2 separate regions of the Homo sapiens genome follow, and region 1 is linked to region 2. A link means that fine-mapping ties the variant in region 2 to the expression of a gene that starts in the linked region. Tissue or cell type: lung. Region 2 holds a variant in brackets; the other region holds the start of a gene. All regions are shown on one strand. Distances are between the middles of the regions.

Region 1 (10,340 bases), 400 kb before region 2:
TTCTATAGGTGTACATGCATTTCTGCTTTTTATATTATGCATTAACTTGAAAACACATTTTAAGTACCTCACTTTCCATTCCTTATACATACTGTAATTTATTTTAGTTAAAATGTTAGTAAGAAGCCCAGGCACCTGCTGATTAAGCATACATGGCACATAATACCATAGCTCTCATGATCACAGCCCCAAAAAAGTAAATCTCAAGAAACAACTGCATTAGCAGCCATGCCAAAGATTTAGAAAGGTTATTATCCTGTGAACAATTATGGTTCTTGTTTGATTGAAAAATTCATAATAAAAACATAACACTTTTGGGGATACAATGTTCATTATACACCATTGTAGTCAGTGGCTACTTTAGTTTTCATTTTTGTTAAGATTCCAAATAATAAAACTATTTGCAAACTGTTGATTTCCTTGTAAATTCCCCTTTCTTTGGCTAAATCAATATATGTAAATATCTTTGTTCATATATTAGTTAAGCTTTAAAATGAGGTTGTTTATGTTCTTGCATTCTTATAAATAACCCACAAATATGTAATCCCTCTAATTCTCTTAAAAAAAGATATAATTATATTTATTTAGGGAAAGTAAAAAAGGTATAAAATTTGAAAAGTATTTTTATGTCTAAAATTATCTAGTTAGATCACTCTGGTTCAAGGATACTTTCTTTTTTAGCTTGGGCCTATTAACCTTCCTTATTTCACTCCAATCCAAGGGCAATGAGGAGAACCCAGTGTATGGCAAACACTCTCAAGATTTGAGAGCCTATGAAGATGCAGAAAACACAGACTTTGCTTCTTCCCTACAATCAGCTGAATATGTATACTTAATTAATTATTATCAGGTATATATAAACAACAACAGTGACGTATGAAATACCACAGGAGAATTATTTTTAATTGTATCCAATAAATGAAGGCTTCTCAGAGGAGATGGCATTTTCTCTCAGCTTTTCAAAATGAGAATAATTTCATAATTTCAACAGGTGAATGTAGAAGTGAGGAGAAGATGCTAGACACACAGTAAAGCACAAACAAAAGGATAAGGATTTGAAAGCATATGACTAATTTGCGGGGTGTGTGGCATTGTATTGTGTTTGAAATCTGTGGAGGTCGGTGGAGGGTAGATGGAGCTGAATCTGGAAAGGTGGGTTGCAGTCATGCTGCCTACCACACCATTAATAGCCATCTTGCAAATTTCTGTCCTTCACAAGAGTAAGTCAACTGGTATAAACATCACTCTTCTATAGGGGTAGGGGTGATGGAGATAGGAAAGAGTGTGGGTGTAGGGCTCCAACTCAATAATCTTTACATTAAATAAATTACTACTTAATAAAGGATTTTTTAAAACCCTACATTTCAAAAATGTGTATTACCCTTCCCCAAAACACAAAATGTGGAGCTATTCTTTATTCTGTTTTCAAGCATATCACACTATATTCTACTTGACAATGTGCTTAAAATTTCTATGCCTCTTTTTTTTCTCCCAATGGGACAATATTTTTTCCACCTCAAGGTCTCTGCACACACATTGCTTTTTCTACCTGCTCTTAAAATCTCTGCATCCTTCTTACCTGTCATCTCTCAACCTGTGGATCCCAGTGTTGCCCACCCTGACTACTTTATCTAATTAGATCCCTCTCCCCACCCCTCTCTCCTCCATAATTCTTTATCCCAGCTCTCTTCATGCTTTATAGGACTTTGAATTTTATTATTTCTTATTAATTTGTTCCTTTCCATAGGCAATGACTCTCTACCCCATGTTTGTGAGCTCCATGATGGCAGGAACTTCAACTCTTCTATTCACTGCTGTATGTATATATAATACCTGCTACAGAGCCTAACAGATTGTAAAGATTCAATAATTGTTATATTATTTTCAGCTATAAAGACATATAAAACCATCAGACTTAAAGGTTGTATCTTTAATAAATATGATTTTTTAAAATTTTCTGAGGGCAATTCCCTATGTAAAGAGTGTGTAATAAGAAGGTAAATATGCTTGAAAATATGTTCGACAATAAGACTTAATTAAATGAATAATTATATTGTTATATATAATAATATAAAAGCATACTATTATATGTCGATATATAATTTACATAACATAAAGTCTTAATATTTGTTTTGCTTAAAATTAGTGATACTAATAAATTAATCCTTTTCTGATACTCAAGAGATATATCTGTATTTTTCTCCTCTGAAGAATATATATACTTTTATATAAGAAATATAAGAAGAATAAAAAATTCTCATACAATTTCCTTATAACGTATCTTCCCTTCTATTTTCCTGTCCAAAGTAAGGTAGAAAAGTGACCTCAAATATATTTTTCTTACAGAACATTGAAGATTGCTTATCATTTCAAAATCAGGAATACCAACAGAGCAGTCAGGGTTGAAAATGGAGAAACGGACCATTAGAAAACTCAGACAGCTTTCTATACTGACAAAAAAGTAAACACCCAACTTAAAATTCATTAAGTGTAAAGCAAATCCTCCTTCGCCACCCAATATGGCACAAAACATTTATTGTTCATATTTATAAAATAATCTACTGGCTATATTCTTAAGAAATACACACAAGTTTTAATCATTGTTTATATTAAAATAAGCTTATTTAGTAGATAGTATGTTAATTTACTTTATGTAGACAGCCAATTTGGAGCTGTATGTGGTGAAAACTGTATTCTAAAAGATAGTCTGTTTGATGACATAAGAGGATAAGCACAATTTAAGTCATAATAGATTGATCCTCCGTCTATCAACGGTGATTAAGGCAGTCGAGTTGGTCTCATTACACAAAGGTGGGCTGAATAAGGCTCTAGGCTAATGTGGAAAATTAAAATCCATTTTTTTCTTAATGGCTCCTACACTGGTCTGAAAATATGATTGATCCCAAATTCTCCAACAAGAAGTTCTTATTTTACTTATATAATTTTATTTCTCTAACAGAACTTCCACTCTGATTTTCTTCCTATCTTTGCCTTTGAAGCTTGATAGTAAGAGCAAGTAATCTCCAATTTCTTAAATGTGACAACAAGAAATTGTCCTTTTAAAATATTCAGCATTAGCCTTTAAAAAAAAAGCATCAAAACTTTTGGTCATCAATTTGCAAATGTAAGGACACGCACTCACTCTTTGAGAAACACATGTATAGCTTATGCTTCTATCCCCCGTCTTTGGAACAACAGGGCATTTAAAACAAATACAGCTGGGAGCCGACAATGTAATGTGCTGGGCAAACATATACTCCCATTAACGTAAATAGATTCTTCAATGTTTCCTACCAACCCCACTTGGTTATGAAAAGCCAGCAATGCCCATTTCCCCCACAGAACACACCACATGCTCGCAAAACAACCAGCCTTAGCAACTGGATGCAGAGACAGGCAGAGAGAGAGACAAAAGCGCCTGGCTCCTGAATAGGATGCCTTCTCAGACCCTGGCATTTCAAAGGCAGTGAAAGGTCATCCTAGGTACTAGTTTCTCAAAGAAATACCTGTAGTAAGGTAACTATTCTAGTCACCTTTATATAGTAACGGCTTGTATCTCAGGCAATTCGCCAGTTTTTCAATTAAAACTGACACATATTAGGGATTTTTACTTCTGCCCCCCGCTCCCCGCAATTCGGATTCTTTCTTTAGACTCCCTGAGCCTCTGTCCCCATCCCAGGATTTGACTGAAGGGCTGCAGAGCCCAGGGCTGCGCGCTAAGCAGCCTTCTGCTGAACCTCAGCGGACTGGGCCATAGTTCACACACCCTCCACTCCTTCTACAGCAGCTCCCGCTGGGGGCACCGCCAGGATATCCACATTTGTCCAAGGTCTGGGAACCCGGGAGGTTTCTAGGAGACCCCAGAGACCAAGTGAGGCCAGGCCCACCCCATGGAAACCCCCACCAGCTCAGATCAGACTGCGAGCGGTGGCTCGACCCCGGGTGTGGCAGGAAGGGGTGCCCCGCGTTCCAGAGCCAGTGCCAGTCCCTATCCTCCCGGGAAGCCGAGACTCAGGGGGAACAGGTTTCCCAGAGCCCAGCCTGCAGGGACGCGGAGGGCAGGAGCCGCCGGCGAGGAGCAGCCAACTTGCCATCTCTGGCGGCTGCACTTCTCGGCGGCTACAGGTTGCCCGACAGCGGACTCCAGGGTCCCCGCGACGGCACCCAGAGTGCTCAGAAGGGAGGCCGGGGCCGGGGTGGGCCGGGAAAACCGAGGGAGGGAAGGAGCCTGGAGAAGCTCCGTTTAGGCGGGGAGGGGGCGACCCGGGGCGCATCTCCCGACCATGACCCCCACAGACCTTGGCGCCGCAACCTGCGCTTCTTGAGGCCGAAGATGCGCACTTTGGAGAAGATATCCACCAGGTTGCCGTTGCAGAGCCCGCGGTTCTTGCTGGGGCTGCTCCGCCTCCTGCTGGCAGACGGCCGGTCCCAGTGCTGCTCCCGCGCCTGCCGCTTCTGGCGGATCAAGCCGCTAGCGATGGCCGCGGCCATGGTGGCCCCGGGAACGGGTCCGGGGAGGGAGGGCGCGGGAGGACGGCGAGCCGGGGGCACCGGAGGGGAAGGCGGCGGCGCAGACCGTGGCTCGCCCTCGGGGCAGAGGAGGGGGTGCCAGGCGGGACTGGGGAGAGGGGAAGGGGGGCTCAGTCCTGACCGGGACCCATCGCCCTCTCCGCGGGGCGCGGGGCCAGGCGCGCAGATGCGCCCAGGGCGCAGCCGGACGATCCCGGGAAGCCGGACGTCGTGGCCGCCGCCGCTTGGCCACGTCCGAGTGGAGAGCGGGACCGCGGCTGCGGGCGCTGCTGGTCACCGCTCGTCGCAGGAACCCCGGCGGGGGTCGCCACCGCCACTCGCGCTGCCTTCTCGCCCTGCCCGGCTCCCGGGCGGGAGGTAGAGCCGGCCGGCGGCTCCCCGGGCGCCGGCTGGAGGGCGGGTCCCGGCAGGGTCTCTGCGCGTCCGTCGGTCCGGGTCGCGCTGGGCAGGACTCAGCGCCGGGCTCCAGCTGCCCGCGGGCCGGTGCCGCCGCCGGCGCCGCCCGCTCTCGGCTTCTGCCGGTGATTGTCAAGTGCTTTGGAAATCAGCATCTGGAGAGACCAATCTTCTCCCCTGAGATCTCTAATCAAACGCTCCGTTCCCACCCCACTACACCCCCTCCACCTATGTGGTCCCCCTCCTGATGTACCTCTTCAGAAAGAAACAAAACGTATAGGTAATAATGATTTAAAAATAATAAGAAAGAAAGCTAAGATGGATTGCAGGGATGGGGTGCTAAGAGGCCGAGCCAAAGCAGGTGGAATTGAAGGAACATCGGGGCGCTTTTTCTTAGATGCAACTCGCTGGTTCCCGAGCCTTCCGCGGCTTGGTTGGGGCTTCTCGGTCTTAACGTGGTTACCGGTGCACTGAAACTCTCAGCAGCGGTTGGAGGGCGAGGTGGTTTCCGCCCTCCCTGCTAATCCCTCCAGCACCAACGCCCCCCCGTCGCCACCCCCAACCCCGGGTTGGAGGGAGGAGCCTCCACTCCTCACCTAGTCCACCCAAACTTGCAGGACCCTCCCTTCTGCTGCAGGAAGGGTAGGTTTGTCATTTTGAAAGGCTACACGGAGCAAAAAGGAGGGAATGGAAAGAGAGAAGGTGTGATTAAGCGAGATAGAAAGACCCCACTCCCAAATATGCTCCCCAGCCCTGGGAGGAGGAGATGACAGCCGCAGTAGCTGCTACAGAACAGCAGCTGGGTAGGATAAACGCCCAGGAGAATGTTGAAGAAGTCAGGGCAGAAATATAAGGGGCAGAGGAGGGTGTCACACTATTCCAGGGACAGTGAAAAGCAGCCAGACAGGACACTCCAATTTGAGCTGTCATCTTCTGGTGTCCCTGGGCAAAGAAGCTCTGTCAGGGAGCAAAGCCATCTGAACTGTGTCTGAAATTCAAATACAACAGCCGGCGTCTCCTCCCCCTTGATTTTCTGTCTGTGTCCCGACAGCGGTTCCCTCCTGGATACCTGAAAATGTGAAGGTCCAAGAGAAAGGGCGGCAGTGGAGGGCACCCGAAAAAAACAAAAAGCCGGGGGGAGGTTGGGAGAGAAACACTTCATGCTTGGATGAACACAGTTCCGTGGTTTCTAGGATACACCAGAGTGGCAGAACCAAGTGCAGCTCTGGCTCCGGGCTTCTTACTTTTCTCCTCTTCCCTTTACACTGCTTTGCCTATCAGCTCAGGCAGCTAAAGAGAAAGAAATGCTCGAACTAGACTTCTGGAAATTCAGTGTGAAGCAAGGGGGAGAGATGGCTCACTTGGTAATCAAGAGACTTGCAACAACCTTCTTCTCCAGTGACTGCTTTAGAGCTGGAAAGAGGGCAAGCACACTACGCAGGCAGCCCTGGGAGCAGTTCTCAACCAAAACACACTTTCTCTTTGTCTCAGGAATAGGCAGTAGAGTACTCGCCACCAGGCAACTGGGGGGAAGTGCAGCAGATTACAGGGAGGCTGGGCACCTTCTGCTCTAAGCAACTTATCCACAGCTTCTCCATGGAAGCAGCCACTGCTGGGCTGTTGTTTGTTACCTTCACTCCACATTTACCAACAAGTCTCCTTTTGGGAAGGAAATGCAACCTGATGAGAGTGTGTAGATTTAGATCTAAGGCAGGGATCATTGGCTTTACGACGGTGTTTGTCATATATTACAAAGTGTACTTCTGGAAGTTTATTTTCTACACTTTGCTATGTTACATCTACAAATTCTACAATTATTAAAAGGAATATGCTAGAGTTGTTTTGCTAGAAACTTGCAATCCCTAGTCACTCATAAAATAGCAAAAGTGAGAAAAAGGGGAATGCTAATTATTTTGCTCTGCCTTTCCCTCTCTATTTTCAGTTTCATATGTCTCTTTTCTTCCATTTTTTTGTGAGTGTGCATTTATGTTGTGTTGCTGTAGTCCTGCTTAAAAAGGGAAAGATGTCTATAGAGAGATGAAAATAACTAAATGGCTATTGAGTGTGTCTGTTGTTTTAATTCACTGAAATGAGTCCTACTGAACATTAAGAGTCACTACTCTTGGTTTCTATTATTGAAGAAACGCCATTTGTACATTTCAGAAGTTCTAGATTTGAATTTGCAAATGACTGTAAGATTAAAGCATCCAGGTTTATTATCAAAGGCTTCTTGCAGTGAGTGTTTCAAAAAAGTAAAATGTTAAGTATAGTGACCTCTTAAATCTAGTATGACTTCCCCAACACACCTAGTTTATTTTTAAAGGTTCTTTAAGCCTTTTGATGTATGTGCCAACAATATTAATTTGAAAAGAGTGACATTAAGCTTCTTGTTCTTATAGCCGTGCCTCTATTTTTGCAGGCATTTTCTTATGCTGCAGTCTTTCCCCCAAATCCTTGGACTTGGGGGTCAGGAGGTCAGTTTTTGGCCCTCTCAGAGCCCTCCCTTCGTTGTTCAGCAGCCTCGGACCAGCCTGACATTCAGCACCGCGGACAGGGATCCCGCCCCAGCCCTACCTCTCCCAGCAGAAGCAAGTTCGCTGATGGAGAAAAGCGCTGGCTGTGAGGGTCTCTGACACTTTCCTCCCCTAAAAGCAGTTTCTCACTTTTTTCCCTCATGATGGGAAGGAAATTGATCTTCACAGCTTCTACCGACGTTAATAACACCTTGGAACACAAAGCCTTTCAGCTTTTCCATAACCGAGAGATACTCTTTCTTTCTCGAGCGTCCCGACCCCTGGCGCAGCGCCTGAACAGCGGACTCCGGAGTCTCCGGGCATCTATTCTGGCTGTGAATTTCAGGAGCCTCAAGCGGTCATTTCTCTTCAACGTAGCTTCCTATTTTAAGGGATCTTGGAGAGGGGGGCAGCATTGGGATAATCAAGGTCTTTTAGGTTAATCCCTGCGTTTTCATTTTACCTCCCCAAAACGCTGTTTAGTTGTTTACGGATGGAGGTAAGTGAAAGAAAACGCAAGAGAGCCATCTGCTGTCTTAAGCTGTGATAAAAGAATGTGCAAAGCTAGGGTGAAAACCAATTCAGGGCCGGTGAACACAAATGTAAAGGTTACTGTAGTTCAGAAAATAATTTGTCACTCATCAGAACCTCCTTGGAGTTGTTAATTTTACCTTTGACGTTATAAAGAGGAAAATAAAGTACGGCCCAGGTGGTGTAGCTCCTCACCAAGCTATTGGGAGCCTGAACTCTCATTTCAGAGGTTCTTGGTTCATTTCTTGACTCTGCAACTTCCTAGCTGTATAATGACCTCCAAGGTGTTGCTTTAGTCTCTCTCAGCCTCAATTTCTTCATCTCTCAAATTGAGGTGAAAACAGAGCCTCCTTTTCAACTGCTGTGAGATTAAATTTAGTAAATAAATGTAAAGATCCTAGTACCACATCTGGTGCACCCTAATTGAAAATGACAGCTATGACTGTATTATCATCATCTTCCAGTTTACTCATTTCTATCTTGTAAATTCTTTTGCAGTTTCCATGTTTTTTCAATATCAAAATATATGTATTCCCTATGTATATTTCCTCACCACCACCCCCCCACAGTGGATGCATGACAAGATTTTAGATAATTCGAAACATAAGAAGTTATTTTAAATTTTGACGAAATAAGTCCCAAGTTCAAACCTTAGTTATTATTAACTACATTTGTGAACTGAGTCCCGTAAGCCTACTTTCACACCAACTGATTGATAATAAAAACATTTCTCTACCTTTCAGAGACTATGATGAGGGTCTATGAGAAAGTACTTCTAAAAACACTAAAATACTATACAAGCATCAGTTTGGAAGGTAATTAGTACACTGTGCTTGATGGTCTCCTGAAGATGCTATGATCCTTTTGGTCCTCCAACTTTAAGTATGTTGTTCCCTCTACCTGGAAAATTTCTATTGCCCTATCCTCACACTCCTCTTGATGATTAAAAAAAAAAAATCATCAGCTAAAGAGTAAGGCATGAGCCACCATGGCTTGCCAACAGATTTTTAAATAAAAATAAAGAGACTTTTTGGCTCTGTCTTGATGGAGCTTATAGTTTAGGTCTCAGCATAGATATCTTCTCTGGGAAACTTCTTGCCACCTACCCCTAATTAACACTGAATCTAGGGCACCTTCTAAAAACTTCATCATTCCTCTACTAACACCAGCAATTGTTGAATAAAGAGAGAGCTATATTGAAACTTCTACAAAGATGTCTGATAGGTAAGTGTCTCATGCTTAAAATGGCCATGAACGAACTACTGTTCTTCCTTCTTAAACCTGTTCTTCCAATCCTCGCCACTTCTGAAATGGCAACTTCATTCTTGTTCCTCAGGCTGAAAACTTTAGTATCATATTAATGTCATTTCTTTCTCTAATACCCCGTATATATTTGTGTAAGATCTATTCTGTCTATCTGCAAAATATATCCAAGATATCACTCTCACCACCTCCACTACTACCTACCACCATCATCTTTTGGGTGATTATACTACAATAGTAACTACGAAATCCCATACTTCAAAACCAAAGTCCTCACTGTAGTGGCCTGCCATGGCTCATGTGATTTGTGCCCCATCTCTGCCTTCAGTTGTTCTCTGACATCATCTCTATTCATCTCCCTTCACTTACCACTTGCTGTCCATCAAACCACCTGGCATGATCCTATGACAGGACTTTTATACTTGCTGTTGCATTTGACTCTCATCTCCTATGAATCTTTCCTCACATCTTTGCTCATAAATCTATTTAAAATTACAACTCATAAACACAGACATTTCCTTCTTGCTACCCTGCTTTATGGTTCTACATAGCACGTACAACTTTTAAAATTTCCATGTACTTTCCTTATTTATTTGGGCTGTCTTCCCCGTTTAAAATATAAGCCTATAAAGGTACAGACTTTGTCTCCTTTGTTTACTGCCACATATCCAGTGTTTAAAATGGTGCCAGGCAAGTAGGTGCTCAATAAAGATTTGTGTATTGAAAGGATTAAGACATTGGATATCTGAACAAATAGACAGTTAATACCAAATAAGAGGAACAGAAAATCTTGCTTAATCCAGTCTGTCAAGGATGAAGTACCCCATGGTACCTAAAGAGATCCTTGATCTCTTTAAGCACCAAGACACCTAAAATTCTATCTGGATTACACACAATCTCAACTTCATAAATAGGATACACCGAAAATACTTTAGCCTTTGCTTGATGTCCTGGGCTCAACCAAACATGACAAACAGTTTGAGTTCTGAATTTCAACAGTGACACCCTCGGGGCTTACTGAAGGATGTGAGACTGTTTCCATTTGAATCAAAAAGGACTTCTGGTATTTGTGATTCACCACTTCTCCACACTTCCTAACACACACAC
Region 2 (10,340 bases):
ACAAGTTATCCCCCATCCCTTTATGGTTCTTAGAAATACAGAAGGCATAACACAACATTTGCCAGAAGAATAAATAAGACAACTTACCGATGTGCTAAAAAGTCTCTTTCAAATATTGAGGTAAGCCAAAGGGAAATGAGTATCTCAATGTTACTAGGGTCTCATATTTTCCAACATTTGTTCAATTTGGCCCACACATTTTAATGTTTCATATTTATGGGTTAATAACATTTTAATTTGGGAACCAAGTGACCTGAGTTTTAGTTTAGCTGGGCCGCTAAGAACTGCTTGACGTTTGGTATGTTACCTACTCTGAGTTTCAGTTCCCTATCTGCTAAAGTATTCCATTCTCTTTAAGGTTGTCTACGATTTATGAAACCATTATTGTCCTCTCTTTTGTACTCTCTGACTTTCCATTTTATTACATAATGAACAAGTACAAGACCTAAACCAAAAAAAAAAAAAAAAAGGCAAACTCTGCTTGCTCATTTAAATGAAAGCAGAAAAAAAAAACTTAAGTGGGAGAGAGCTTATATTAGCAACCTACTTCTGGACAATACCAATTTTCAAAAATACTATTTTCAAGGAGGTTTCATTTACAGCGTTGTCTTTCATTCTTACAACAAACTTTGGAAGCTAATATTTATTACTGTTTACCAAGGAGAAATTCAGATCCAAGATCACCAAACTAATGCCAATTAAAAGAATAAATAGGACTGATACTTGGGCCAAGGGTTTAAAATGTCTGTATGTTTTATAAAAAATCAAATCCACTAGAAATTGTATTCCCCACAAACACTTATGAATGGCATTATACCACTGCACTATTAATCCTAGTGCTGTTAGGAATTCCAACTACCCCCCTGGATGGCTTAAAGGGATAGAGACATCAGTGATAGCCCTAGGAAAAATATAAGAATTAGAACTTATAGGAGAAGGAAGTGTATTGTTTTGTTTTGTTTTGTTTTTCAGGGCATGGATTTGAAAGCTTCTGATAGCAGAAATTTCTTGCTGATTGTTTTCTGCTATCAACAACATCCTCAGAGACATATGAAGAATAAAGAAACATTTAGCTCTTCCATCGAAGCCCTACTTCTGGACTCCGTCCACAGCCCCAGATATCCCTTTCAGTCCAGAGCTCGGCAGGTACATCACTCAGGGGCTGTGTGAAAAGTCAAGTGGGGTAGAGAGGAGACACAACCCTGACAAAAGCAAGTGAGTTCTCCTCCTCCTGTAGCGGACCAACCTACTCCTTCCTGAGCCACAGCCATAGGAGCAGACATTTAGTTCAAGGACAACAGAGCACCTTCCAAGCACTGATAGCCTTACAGTTCTCCAGGGAAAAAGGCAGGGCCAAGCAAGGCCCCTCTGCAAGGTTCACATTCAGCTATCCAACAATCAATTCAACAGTGTCTTCCACCTCACTGTGGGCAGGGCACTGCTCCTGGAAGGCACCAGGCAATGTCAAACCCAATCCTGAGCCTGGAAGCACTCACACACAGGGAAAGCAGCCGTGGAAATAGCTCAATTACAATTATGTGCCTAGTCTCTTCATCAATTACAACAGAAGTGGAGAACTCAGAAACTGAGTCTCACGAGGTAACATTTAAAGTCAATCTTGAAAGATAAGCAGGAGTTGTTTGTTGGAGCCAGGGAAGGGCACTCTCGTCTCAGGGAAAGGCATAAAAGAATGCAGATCATCACTGATGAAACAGTCCCGATTTTACAGGAAATGGTGAGAAAGTGAAAGTCAAAATTGTAGTTGGTGGTCCAAACAAGATACTCTTTGGGAATTCTCTCAGAAATACTCCATTTACCTTTTAAGGCGTTGGGCAGGGGAGGGGGGTAAGAGCTCAAAACAGTTCACATTGTTGGTTTTAATAGATTTTTAAACTAATAACATAATGAAATTAAAATGTCTATTTTCAGCCCCAACCCCAAAAGAAATATATTCTTGTTTGCATTAAAGAAGGTTTTCACCAAAACTGTTCAGGTTCATTTCTATGGAAAATCATTCAGGCATCAACCCTCATGACTTCTTCAACAGTCCAAATGGAAAGCAACAACATCACGTCACAAATTCCTCCACAAAGTAGTACTAGACGTTCAAGACAGAGAAATTAAAATACCAATTATTTTCTCTAAAACTACCAAACGTGTTTTCCATCACTCAGGCAGAAAATGCAGCCATTACGAAACAACTCTGCCAGGCTGAGGCCGGAGAACACAGCCAGCACACAGACGACCAAGATGTTCAGTCCACTTAAGAAAATGCACCTCACTACTTCAGGGGCCACGCAAGCCATCTTCATGAGGCATTACGTATTGAAAAAAAATGGCTAATTTTCTGAGAGGTCAGTTGAAATATAAGAGACAGAAATTTCTTTCTGCTGCTTGTACAGTCAAAATTTATTGAAGTCAGTTAGCAACAATGTAATTTGCCTGACCTGATCATCTTACAAATTGAAGTCATCAATAAAGTGTATTCACTTGTGTATCATCATGTTTTATTCAGCTGGAACTGTCTCTCTCCACCGATGGCCCCAAACATATATTACATGCACAAATTAAGCAGCACCCATTCTATATTGACTACTTACTAGTTCCTTCTGAATATGTCCTCAATCGCGCTATACATATTTCCTGAACTGAAGGGACCATTCCAAGTGTCTTCACGGTATATGTTACTTCAACAAACCGAACATATTAATACTATATGGAATGTCTGCATTTTCCAGATACTGTACTAGATACAAGGATCCAATGATTAATAAAAAAGCTTTCCTGCCCTCAGAGAGCTGAAAGTATAGTTTTATTATCACAGAAACTCACAATTATTCATAGTAAACACTCAGAAAATATTTGGTGAATAAACAGGTAGACGTACATGCAAATAAACAAATGCCAATCACTCTTTCAAAGTTGTTTACAACAAGAGTTACTGTTTTTATTCTGAAAGTTAATTTCTGCTATCAGGAAAAAAAGTCGTCTTGTGTATTAATTCAGGAATTTCCTGCAAAGCTCTGAAAGCAAGTACTTGCTCACACCTGCCAGAAGGGTTTGGTATTTCTCGACATGGGAGTAAATATAATGTTTTATTGATCTCACTTCTATTAGCTTTGGCTAAAAATTTATATATAAAAATACATAATAAATGTACAAAATTATACATATTATATTAATATATTATATAACATATACATTATTATAAATAACATATTAATGTATAATAAAAGATTCACATAATGTTACACACACATACAAACATGTATACATATATGCATATATACATAGGATATACAAACATATATGTACAAACATGTATATATGTTTGTGGTAATGTGGTAATATATATGTATATTGTGTGAATATTATATCACACACACACACATGCCTTCCCTAATAAATCGGTCAAAGAAATGAGTAGCAAGGAAAAAATATTATAAAATCTGGCATTCCTCCTTTCTGTAAAGGGGATCTTTTTGAAAAGAAACACATATTGCTCTAAGAGTCAGTCACACTTTCACAGACAGAAGATACTGCTTCCAAAGTGCCTCCCAGCCTGCACCCCTTCAGGGGACAGTAGAGCAGTTCCCTGAAGCCCTACCTCAAGTTCAAAAACTATCACTTCTCTCAACCCTCCCCTGTAGGCAATGCCTGTAACATTTCACTGCATTTTTTGCGGGCCTCTTTTACTTGACTAAGTTCTCTGAGAGCCAGCATTATGAACCATTTGTGTTTAAATGCCTTGTATTTGGCACAGTTTGGGTCATAACCCAATACTGCAAAAAGGGAACTCAATGGCATGGGTTAGTTTATTAAATTAATTTTAAAATCATTTTCCTTTTAGCTGTCTTGTAATCCTTCTTGAAATAGTTGAGGATCCCCTAGCATTTCACAAAACAAGAGTTGGAATTTTCTGTCCCAAATATTATTGCATCTAAAATATATCAGCTTGGGTCCTGTGTACCTTAGGGAGAACCCCAAGCTTGAAATAAACTAGGTAAGACCTCAAATACAGCAAGGCAGTGAGCCTAACACAGATTTATTGAAGCTTTAATTCCCTCTTCTTACCTTTCTAGCAAATTACTCCTTTTTACAATATCCCAAGATATTTTAAAAAAAACCTGTTGTATATTACATTACACTCTTTCATGAATATACCAGCACTGCAAAAAAGCAGAAACTAGGACATGACTACTTGGGTGCATAATGAGCCCTATGCAATCCCACAGCTACACTGTGCAGAGAAGAATAAAGCATTTGGCCAGTGCTGTCTCATTAGGGGAAAATATGTCCTGCCAGGAGGCAAGGGTCTAAACTAGGAGCCCCCTTGGAGTCCCATATTAAACCCAGCAGACTGCAAAATAACAGAAATTAACAGAAGGATAAGCTTTGTGACTGGAGAAAAATTTAACTTTCTCAAATCCTAAAATCCTGACCTTTCTGCCACAGTACTCAACCAAGTTTTCATGGCATACTATCATGTTACATACAATCAGTTGTGGGACATGTCAAAAGCAATGTTACCAACAATAGTCTCTCAACATGCACATCAAGGGTTGAACATTCAACAAAAATGTGGTAAGTTGATGGGGTGACAGATATGTTAATTCGCTCGCCTGAATATTTCTACATAGACCAAAATATCACACTGTACCCCATACATATATACAATTATTATCAATTAAAAATAAATGAATAATTTTTAAAAGGGAGGATATCTTGCACATAGAAATCCCACACATCATGCAAGTTGACTATGAAACTAAACATGTTAAAACATTGAGAACCACTTAGGACAACTTAAACAAAATACATTTACAAATTGCCTTGAATCACTCTCTTGAACTATCTCTGTATATGTGTGTGTGTATATATATATGCATATAAAATATTACAAATATTGGCGTGTAGTTTTTCAGCCATGGTATTATTGTAGGCTTTAACCTTTTTGTTCAGATGTCCTGAAACAGACCACTTTAAAAATCAGAATTTTTGAAAATATTAACTCCTTTTTGCACGGTTAATCATACAACCTCTGAAACACCTGAGAAATTATAGTAAAAATAATGTAATCCATTCTCAGGGTTATCATCATGATTACTGATATTAAATGCTGGCATCTTTCAGGATGATTGAGATGTGGAAAGAGTAGCTCTGACATGCAGTAAATTCACCTCATGATACTCATGATACTTCTTTTGATTGTATGGCTTTTTTAGGCCATTTTCCATCTTTTTTTGGGCCATTTTCCATTCATTAATTCATTTCATTCCATCACGTACCTTCTCAGACATGTGATATAGACAGGCACCGATGTCAGTATGCCTGCCTCTAGCACAGATGCATTTCTCCTACACTAACTACTTGCTACATTTATTCTGCAAGAAGCCATTAATTTACACTATACAGTCACTAGCTTTGTGAGAAAATAAGAGTATAAAGGTTCTGAGTAAGATTCTTAAGACCTTTTCTAGAAGTAAATAATTTGAACCATACATAAACATTTGCAAGATCGATTCAGTAATTTATATTCTTTCGTTATTCCTTTATTCCCACCTGCATTCTGTATAGTGGTAATAAGTATTAGAAAAAAAAAGATCCCCAAAAACAAGAGGAATTAAATATATATATAGATATTATGAACCAACTGATATGTTCCTTCCTCATTTACACACATTGAAGGAGTTAAGAATGTTTCATCCTTTCTCCTGGTTTTCTGCTTCTGTCTCTGTTATAAATTATATCACTTAAATATAAATGAATGAATTTTTACTCTATAGCTTTGAGACATTCTGGTTTTTAAACCTTTGTTTTTTTTCTAAACACTTTCCAAAATATAGGACCAAATTTTTAACATACTTGAGAGGCTTGAGTAAGCTGAGAACCAAGGA[G/C]AGCAGCAGATCCCTCAGTCCTGGACAGGACCCGCCCCTCCCTTCACTACTGGGGAGGAAACATCCCACCCCTTCTGGCTTCTACCAAATGTGACAACTTGCCTGCTTGGCCTTCTGTTAAGAGCTGGATTTCCTGTCCCCCTCCCACACACTGGGCAGCAGCCAGACTGCAAAAGTCCAGTTTGACCATGTGGAAACCTTTGCTTGGTTCCTGCCAGAGCCTTTCAGTAAGCTGCCCTATTTAGAGTCCAGCTCAGATAAATCCTCCCCTTCCACAATCTGGCCTACTACAACAATTGCAAGACCATAGACATCGGCCCCAGTCATGCTTGATTTTTAATTTTTGTTTGCTTAGACTAGGGTTTATTCATCATGTTACCATCATGTCTGAAAAAACTGATAATGGTATCTGGCATTTTCAGTAAATGGAGGGAGTTGGAGGCCCCAGCCACCTGGGTCTTTCCCAAGTATCTTGAAAGCTGAGAGGATCAACACCTCAGCACACCTGCAGACATTTAGGGCCAAGCAGTGGGAAGATCTAAACCCCTGGAAGGAGCCAGAATTCAGTTTGAAATCTACTCACATAGGGAGTGCCCTGGGTGCCATAGGAGCTGCTGGCAGCAGGGGGTCCCAACTGCGTATCCTCAGCCTTAGAGCACCCACCCTACCCAAACTGGGCACTCAGATGTATTTGTGTCCTAGGCTGCTGTAACAAGGCACCATCAGCTGCGTGGCCTAAACAACAGACATGTATTGTCTCACAGCTCTGGAGGCTGGAAGTCTGAGATCAAGGTATTGGCAGAGTGGACTCTTTCTGAGAACTGGGAGGGAGACTCTGGTCCACGCCTTTTCCAAGCTGCTAGTGGTTTTTCTGCCTGTCTTCAGCTTTCCTTGGCTTGTAGAAGTATCACCCTGATCTGTGTCTTCTTCTTCGACTGGCATTCTCCGAGTCCCTATCTGTGTATAAATTTCCCCTTTGTGTAAGGACACAGTCATATTCAACGAAGGGTCTGCCCTACTCTAGCATGACCTTATCATGACTAATTACATCTGCAACAACAGAATTTCCAAGTAAGGTCATATTCTGAGGTTCTGGGGATTAGGACTTCAGCACATAAATTTGAGGGGGGCACGTTTCAACCCATAACTCCAGGAATGACATTGATGGCTACCTGTAGATCATCTGAGACAGGGTTTGGCACACAGTAGGTTGGTACTCAATACACATGTGAGTTAAATAAACGAATGCATGAGTGAATCATCCTTTCTGAGTGCCAGTGAAGAAGTCTTTAACTTGGGGTGTCGTGATTTTCATGATCACCATTGAGCATTGAAGACTATTGAGGAGAGAAGCCGTTGCTGCGAGCTTTCTGAGGCTGCTTGCTGAAAGACGAAGGCACTCCTTGCTGTCTGATCACAGCAGAAGGCTCTGAATTTGAAGTTGGAGTGCTATAAATAGCAGTTAGTCTTATCCTTCAAAATGTCATGTGTACTTTTTAAAAAGATTTTAGTGTCATATGAGAGTCCCTGAGTAATTCAATTTATAGGAAAGGGAGATCAGAAAGAACTAACCATATTATAATTAATTACATATGCAAATGATGGACTACATCTAGATGCATGAATCCATGTCTAATCATAGTTGGCAAAGGTTGGCAACTGCACACCTGGACTGGGGAACACACCCCCTGCTCTGCTTAGATACAGACGCCATCAACAACCTCTGAAAATTTCCCAGAAAACCTGGAAATTCAGTCCTGTAAGTGCCAAGCCTCCTGCCTTCCCCCATCCCTCTCTGGGGCTTGCCCCCACCAGCACACAGCAGTGCAGACACCATACAGCATGGCTGCGCTATGGTGAGGCATGGCCAGTGGGAGGAAGGCCACCAATTGCATACAATAACAACTTTGTTGTCACTGCTAGGAGCCGAACCAGCTGCGATGCCTTACAATTGCTACTTAAATGTAAGCAGTGTCAGGAAAGTCTGAATGTAAAGAAGTTTCTCAGTTCTTGAGCCAAATGACCGGTTGCTTGTGTTCTTCTATTAACTCTAAAACAATTAACTCTATCAGCTTATGCTGATAGCCACTGTGCATTTTTTGGAGCACCTGGGCACTAGCTAAGGATAGTGACTGATATGTGGATGATGAAATATATAATAGAGATGATATAGACATAGATGTGCCAAATGCTATATATACATGTATGTATGTATATATTCATATATATGCACATGCATACTGATGAAAGCCACTTTGCTGATATCCCCAAATAACCACTGAACTACAGATTCCAGATTTATAGAGCATATTGTTGGTGTTGTTTCTGAGAGTACCTACCATAGTATTCCTGTGGAAAGATACACACCTATATAGTTTCCATTTTCAAAATGCATGCATGTGCCTCTGTGTGCGTGTGTGTGCTCCCAAAGCAGCAGTTGTAGGGGACTGCACAGAATAATCGTTCGGGAGATAATCAGGAGTCCTAGATTTGAGTCCCAGTCTTGCCACTGATCAAAAATGGAAAGAATGAGTTCTATCACCCAAAGTATGAGCATGCAATTAAAGAGATTATGTGAAAGAACCTTGAAAACTCCAAAAAAAAAAAAAAATGACCCTCATGAGACTTCACAAGTCAACAAAGGTAAAAATCAATGGCAAAAGTTTCAGGCAACCTTGTGTTCATCCAGGTGGAGACATGCTTAATCTCTCCTGACCCTGCAAACACTTCTGGGCACCTCCCTGGCATGCATTCAGTTGGTGCTGCACTGGAGTTGCCATATGACTGCATCCTGAGTCTCTGCTGTGGGACTGGAGTTATCCTAGGGAAAATGGTGACTAAACCAATTTCCTCTTCAGTGTTCTTTTTCATTCCCATTTCCTCCTGTTTTGGAGACTTATTTTGTCATACAGTCTTAAAGGAAAGGGATCTGGTTTGCTGGTTCACAATTAGAGGTAGGAGGCAAGGTAGCTCCTCCCCTAGGAGTTTGTGCTCTTTGAAAGCCAATGTGGGAGGACCTCCCTAGAAGCACATGGAGATATAGCTGAGCAGCATCTATCTACTCACCTACATATTCCCTTGAATGGGGCTAAAGATGTGCATGTTATGCCAAAAGCTGAAAAAATAGCAACATGAGATAGGAGAATGGATAGTGAATGTTCATTGTGAACTCTTTAAGGAGCAATACCTCATTTCCTATTTCCTTCATCCCTCCCATTCACCTTTCACACTGAATTCTTAGCCAACTCTACATAAAATAGACTCCCAATAGGACCAGTATGGCTATACTCAAAATAGCCTCTCTCTAATATGGGCTCAATTTATAACCTGGGTAGCTGGTACAGTTCATACGTAGAAAAGTTTTGGCCATTCAAAAATATTGGAATGTCTGATTCCTGCTTGATATTCTGTAGAAGTAAGGGCACCAATTTGCAAGTCAGGAGGCCAGACCACAGTGTCTCCTTAACTGCCAAATGTCTATATATCCTTGGACAGACCCCTTCATTGCAATAGAGCACATTTTTTCTCAATAAAATGACTGAATTGAAAGCTATAGCTCTAAAAAGCTTTCAATTCAGTGCTGGAAATTCAAGTTATATGGACTGTTTTAATTTCCATGGTAGTCGATAAATAATATGGTATGGCATTTTGGTTAACTTGAAATTACCATGTAACTCCATATATGGAGTTACTATATAATTTGCAATTCTCAAAGAATCATAATGCAAAAAATAAGTATTTAACAATGCAACATATAGAATACAATTTTTAAATGAATTTGAAACATAATGCTTCCCAGGGTCATTATAAACACAAATTTTCATTTATCCATATATTTTAAATTGCTAATTATTGGAAATTTTTGATAAATTCTTGTTAGTGGCTTTTCCATACTCTATTGTTTAAAGTACGTTTGTGTGCATGTGAGATTATTACAAGCAAAGGTAACTGAATAGGGACCTACTGCCAAAATCTGCTTACATTTCACTAATTTTGATTAGGCCTTAATGTGTTTTCTAAACTTGGGTAGGGCATACCAAATACAACAAAACTAGATTCCACATCTAGTTCATAATCAGGAGCATTAAGTATATGATGACTCTATCAATTCTCAGTAGTTTGGATTCCATAACTAATAAAGAATCATGTTTTATCCTGATTAATTGGTTCAGATTAATTTAGCACCCCCTGCCAATGTCCCATTTTAACTGTCTTCAAACCCAAAGGTAGAAAGTGGCATTTAAATGTTTTTCAACTCTGTACTGGGAGCAGACCAAATTTCCTAAGTCAGATCCAAGCCAGAGTGGTTTGACCCAGACAGGATTAGATTGAGCCTAGGAAGGGTGAGATTGGAGAGAGGCACCCAAACCCTGGAACACAAGGAGGGTGGCTGACAAGCCCTTTTCCTTCCAGCATTCACTGTAATGAAAAACTAATGGGCTG

Evidence for each region. PIP is the estimated chance that this variant, and not a neighbour inherited with it, causes the effect. A credible set is the group of variants that fine-mapping cannot tell apart.
Region 1: FGF14 starts here. The variant in region 2 is the best candidate, but not a certain one, in a credible set for the expression of FGF14 in lung (TOPMed, PIP 0.53).

What each region holds. Positions count from the first base shown.
Region 1 is chr13:101,912,155-101,922,494 of GRCh38, forward strand. It overlaps FGF14 (fibroblast growth factor 14), which reads right to left and starts at 4,791. Exons shown (of 5, transcript NM_004115.4): 1 at 4,299-4,791. The coding sequence starts at 4,491. RefSeq lists an enhancer at 6,122-6,623.
Region 2 is chr13:102,311,771-102,322,110 of GRCh38, forward strand. All of the region lies in intron 3 of FGF14-IT1 (FGF14 intronic transcript 1), which reads right to left. LOC107984615 (a long non-coding RNA gene) reads left to right here. Exons shown (of 5, transcript XR_007063856.1): 5 at 973-1,045. It also overlaps a transcript of FGF14 not described here. Among named protein-coding and RNA genes, the nearest start is that of FGF14-AS1, 51 kb to the right of the region's middle. The variant G/C (reference allele first, on the strand shown) is at 5,898.